Linked DNA regions of Homo sapiens: region 1 is linked to region 2. Evidence: fine-mapped expression QTL. A gene starts in region 2. The other region holds a variant in brackets. All regions are shown on one strand. Distances are from middle to middle. Region 1 overlaps OSBP (oxysterol binding protein). Region 2 holds the start of OOSP3 (oocyte secreted protein family member 3).

What was found. PIP is the estimated chance that this variant, and not a neighbour inherited with it, causes the effect. A credible set is the group of variants that fine-mapping cannot tell apart.
Region 1: its variant is the best candidate, but not a certain one, in a credible set for the expression of OOSP3 in whole blood (INTERVAL, PIP 0.66).

What each region holds. Positions count from the first base shown.
Region 1 is chr11:59,573,239-59,576,157 of GRCh38, reverse strand. It overlaps OSBP (oxysterol binding protein), which reads left to right. Exons shown (of 14, transcript NM_002556.3): 14 at 1-1,760. Among named protein-coding and RNA genes, the nearest start is that of TRF-GAA2-1, 8.2 kb to the right of the region's middle. RefSeq lists an enhancer at 1-108. The variant C/T (reference allele first, on the strand shown) is at 1,360.
Region 2 is chr11:59,877,439-59,880,357 of GRCh38, reverse strand. It overlaps OOSP3 (oocyte secreted protein family member 3), which reads right to left and starts at 1,576. Exons shown (of 5, transcript NM_001395255.1): 1 at 1,477-1,576; 2 at 1-97. The coding sequence starts at 1,549.

The DNA.
Region 1 (2,919 bases), 300 kb after region 2:
TTTAGAAGTTCCCTTAAAAAGAAACACATAAGACTTACCAATGGAGGCATTGTGAATGGTTGCAGTGGAGCTTAGGTATAACATCATCAAGTGTGTTCACACGCGGGGTCGGTTTAATGGAGTGTCCACGCGGAGATAACTGCGATATTGGAACACCTGTGAGAGAGATTGTTCTATAGGGCTGGAATATTCAGAGTTACATTCTTGGAAGTTTCTGTTTTTACTTGCATCAAACACCCCTCTGTTGTTCTCCATCATCTTTAATAGCAACTGGAGACCACTTTGGTCATTGGTAAGGGGGTGCATTCTCCTCACAAAGGGGTTTTATGGACTTCCTCAGGCGGAGAGCTTCTGAGAACACAGGCAGGATGGAAAAAGACTACTAGCCACTTTTGCTTTCCCAACCCCCCTTAATGCCATCCTTCATTGTCTTTCTGGCTTCTCTTCTTCTGGCACAGTACCATTTTGGGTCTGTGCCCCAGTGTGGAGCAAAACATTGCCTGTCCCATTCTGATATACTTCAGAATTTGAGAGCAGAAGTTAATGTGGAACAAAAGTTTTCACCATCTCTCAAGCCCCAAGGACTGGAGCCACCTCTGGAATAATGTGTTAAATATCTGTATATTATATATATGTAGAGAAAAATCTAATTTTTTGGTTTGATTTCCTTCCCATTAAGAATCTTGTTTTTTGATACCCTTGTCTCCCTGAGACTCTTTCTTGGACACGTGTTGATGTGGATGGCACTCCTGCTCTCCATCTTTTATGGGCAGAGAGATTTCAAAACCTGAGCAGGATCATGTCTGGCAGTTACTAAACAGGGACTTTGTCCATGGTTTGTATCATGGGGTGCCTACTGCTGTCTAAACTCTGCTCTCCTAATTAGCTGACTCTTGAAAATGAAATCCTAACCTCTTTCCTGCCTCTTTTCTTTCTCTTTTCAGGAAGAGTGTGGGTAGAAAGTCCGGAGGGCAACTTCCAATTTAATTCTGCTCTGTCCGGCGCATAGGCTGAATTCCAAAAGAACTTTCTTCCTAGGATGTGGGGCTTAAAGCACCGTCATGTGGGGTGGATCAGATAATTGCTCCTGTGGGGCCCTGGCTTCCTTCTCTGTTTGTGCAGTATTTGTTTTTGTTGTCTTGTTGAGAAATATCCCCTGTGCAACCCACCCTTGGTTGAGGATCACAAATTGAGGTGCCTTCCTTGTATGCTTTTTGTTAGTATTTTTTGTTTTTGTTCCTTAACTGCTGAGCCTCAGCCAGCGTGGGTCCTGGGGGAAATACCATTCCAAAGGAAGCCATCCCTATGGGGAAATTGGTTTTACTGGGTAAATTAATACTTTTATTTCTTCCCCTATCC[C/T]TTCCTTCCTAGTTGTGATAAACATGGGAGAGGAGTGACTTTGACTGCTGGGGAATTTCCTCCTAAGAACCTTATTCCCAAAATAAGCCAGGGATTATGTCAAGGCTTCTTTCAAGGAGGCTCATAAAAGCAGTGACCTCATCCGGGGCTTTGGATAGAGTGAGAATTCCCCAACTAAATTGGACTTCTCTGCTTTATCCCCTTCTCTTCCTTCACCATCTGCACTACATTTCTGGCTGATCCCAATCAGATTCCCGCTAATGGAAGAAGTTTAGAATCTTTCAGGTGGAATAAAGTCACATGAAAACAAAACACAACTATATATATTTTCAGTTTTTTTGCCTTATTGATTTTTTTCCAAAAAAAAAAAACTACTAAATTAAATAATTTTTTAAAAGTCATATTGTTTGTCTGATTCACTTCTGCTGCTAGGCAGTAAGTGGTGTTGGGGAGGTGAAGGAGAACTGGTCCAATGGTAATTTGTTCTGCTCAAGAATCTGAGCGCCCAGAAGCCCTGGTCTTCATGAGAAATGGAAAGTAAAGCTGTTCACCACCACTCCGGAGGGCCATGAGCAGAGGAGTAGTTTTAACAGCCCCTGCTGCTTAAATTAACAGTCATCAACATCCCACCTTAGTACAGGGGAATCGTTTTTAGTGTTTTTGGTACTGGGCCTGCTTCACTTCAAAAATTTTCCCTGTAAATTTAATTTATCTTGTCCATTTAGATTCTCAGATTGTTGGCTGTTTATGTAGGAATTCAAATTCTGTTTTTTGTTTGAGACAGGGTCTCACTCTGTCACCCAGGCTGGAGGGCAGTGGCATGACAGCTCACCGTAACATCCACCTCCTAGGCTCAAGCGATTCTTGCCACCTCAGCTCCCCAAGTAGCTGGGACCACAGGTGCATGCCACCAGAACCAGCTAATTTTTGAATTTTTAGTAGAGACAGGGTTTTGCCATGTTGCCCAGGCTGGTCTTGAATTCCTGGGTTCAAGCAATCCACCAGCCTCTGCCCCCCAAAGTGCTGGGATTACAGACAGGTGTGAGCCACTGCACTTGGCCTCAAGTTCTGTTTTTGAAACAAGCAATTGAGTTTTGATTTGAAGACCTTTGAGAAAACTAATGACAGTGAACATGTTTGTACAAGTTTTCACTGGAAAGTTCAGGTTCAGGGAGGGGATAGGCAAAGTAACCTATGGTCCTGGCGGGGGCTCAGATCAGAGCAAGCACAATTCCTGCCCGTGGGAGGGACCTCACATTTGCTGAGCATCTGCCTCCATGGAATAGGATCTGCCTCCATGCTGAAATAGGAACTCTGACCATTCTCTGGCTTGCACATAAACGATTTTAAGAAGAAAATGTTGCAATCATTTTGAAGATGAAGGAAACCTAATTTAAATAAATTCACTCATGGTCATGTAGCTGGTCAGTTAGTCACAGTGTTGGAATTCAAAGCTGGGTTGAGTTTGTGACCTCTACAGTCCTGTGCTCTGGAAGAAACTCTGGGTTGGAAGGCAGCTGATAATTAAGTACTTTCCTCCTAGATTATATCACATCATGC
Region 2 (2,919 bases):
CCCAGAGATGCTTCATCAGAATGCAAAATATGATCTTGACCAAGTAAAGTTGGTTCAGCCACAACCCAGAACATAGAGGAAGTACATCCTACTGACACTGTTGAAAAAAAATTTTTTTAAACATTTAGATAGCAATTTTATGCTAAACGACACCCAGAGAAAGTCTGAACATAGCATATTTAAACATATGTATATACACCACTGTAAAACAGCCTTGAGAGATACAATATGATCACTCAGATGAAATGGTAAAATTGTAAATGAAGGATCAGTCCCATTCAAGCCTGTCTGGAAACAACCTCTGTCTCCTTCCCTGCGAGTACTGTTTCCTTAAAAGTTCAACATTAAGCTAAATATGGGATGCTGTCTCTGCTTCTTTTGCTGTATGGGGCTGCCCATGGATTGGGGGAGCCTCAAGCTGGTGTGCTGGCCTTGAGTTTACATAATTAGGCCAGTGTAAATGACTGATAGGGCACTGAAGCTGCAGCTTCTATGGCCTCTGACTCTCATCCCTGGCAGACATCTACATCCCGTGTGGGTGAAGAGACAAGGGAAACTGTACCCTGGGGCATCTGCTAGACCTGCCAATAAGATGAAGATCTGCACCTGCTCTGTCTCCACCCTGTATCCTTCTATGATGCAAAAGGAAGATAGTCTCAGATTAAAACCTTGTGTGGTAAGTCTGTCAACTCAAAACATTCACAGCTGTGGTGTTACAACAGCATTTCTTCATTTTGTGTCTATTAATTCTACTACCAGAAGCATATCCAAAAAACATTTTTAGACAAAAACATATCCTATAGATAAAGCAATTCATCACTGTATTTTCATGGTTTAAAAAAAAAACTAGAAATAACAAAATTATATGTATTTTATATGTATTATTTCTACCCAATAACTTTGTACATAAATAAAAATATATAGTTTAGATGAGAAAAGATTACTGTAAAATATGGAAAAAGTAAGTGGAATGCAAATAAAACTATTAATATTAATGATAACAACTTTATGACTTAGGGAGAATAAGAAGTGAAAGGAGAAAAAATGAAGAACTTTATTTTCTCAACCTGATTTATGATCACTAACTCATGACCACTTAGGAGGCAACAGGGCAGGACAGGAGGCAGGTGGCAGGATTATGAGTGGGAGATCAGGGTGGGAGGTGGAAGAGCAAGTTGAAACCTTAAATAGAGAAATATTTTTCCACAGGTAGGGTGAATAGGGTGACAAAACACAATAGAAAACACCTAAATCCAGAGGAAGAATAAAACTAGCTCTTTCTCAAGTATTAGGATAAACTAGATAAATCACTTGCTTTGCGGGGTGGTAGAGAGCAAACAAGAGAAAGCAATACCACTACAGAAGTCAGAAAACTATACTGGAAAGTCACTTCCACTCAAAACAGCAAACAGTAAAAGGCCCACAACCGCTAAGAAACTATGACTTCAAACAACAAAATATAAAGGTCACTTGTACCTGACTCTTGCTCAGAAAGAGTCAAAATCGTGCACAAAAGGAAAGAGGACTGTAACCTCACAAAATCTTTCATGACGTCAGCTGCCAACTAATGACCCCTGAAAAATTCAGGAAATTGGAAGCGGCTGCCCTGCTTTTGATACTTTTATACCCGCTGCCACACCCAGCTGACTACATTTACAAATCACTTTTTGCCAATGGCTTATATTTTCCAGGAATGTATTGTTTTTGCCAATTTAAGTTGCTTAATGTTTGGAAAATACAGAAAGTATAAAGAACAAAATTAAAACTCTTTATAAAAACCACTATTTTTATATTCACAGAAATAATTTTTTCTCCCTGCTGAAACTTGACATTCTCTTGATCACTCCAGAACCAAAATCAGGCTGCAAATAAAGTCCCATTGACAAATCTTTGAGAACTGTGACTTCTTCAGGCCCTCCAAAGTTCCTAGAACAGAATGTTCACAGAAGGTCAATGCATGTTTATTGAATTGTTGGGAAATGATTTTCAAACTTTAGCAGCATCAAAAACACCTGCAGCACTTGTTAATACACCGATAGCTGAACTGTGTTCAGGAAATTCTTATTCAGGGCTGGGAATGGAAGGGCCAAGAATTTACATTGCTGAAAGTTTCCAGGTGCTGCTGATGCTGCTGACCCCAGGATCATACTTTGAGATTGTGCCTCAGGCATGTTCACTTTAGAAAGTATTTATTTCAATGGCTCCCAAATTTTAGATTAATTTTCAAAATTATCTGGAACACCATTTAAAAATATGTGTATTCTAACCCCAATCTAGTCCATTGAGATCTATTGTAGCTGGAAATGTAAGAATGCATATGAGTCACTGCAGGGTCTTGTCAAACATGCAAATTCTCACAGTCTAACTCAGTGGGGCAAGACCCAGGAATCTGCATTTTTAAACAACTGCCCCCAGGTGACTCCTGGAGGCTCACACTTTGAGAAACTCTAAGCAGAAGTCCTCAGGGCTGCTGATGAAGGAGGAGGGAGGCAGATCTCCAATTCTTTTTCAGTTATTTTCATTTTATTTATATCTGTTTTATATTAGATCCTTTTTAAAACATCAACATTATAAATTCTCAGCATCCTTTGACCTGAAATGTAACATCATAATTTTAAATAATAAACCAAATGTGCCTGGGGCTACTCATTAAATGACATCTTTGATGGATCAATAAGGAATAAAACAATGAATCCAAATCCTATTTCTCATCATATAATCTCCTGAGACTTCCAACATCTATAATATAAACTTTGCAAAATATGTATGTTATCTGTGCCACTAGTCATTATCTTTTGAGAATCTGGAATGACCTAAAAGAAAACAGAGACCAGTCCAACTAGCATGACATTGGGCCAAGTTCCAGAATCAGTAGTCTAAACAAAGCCTTCCCATAAGAGATATAAAAAATAAAATAAA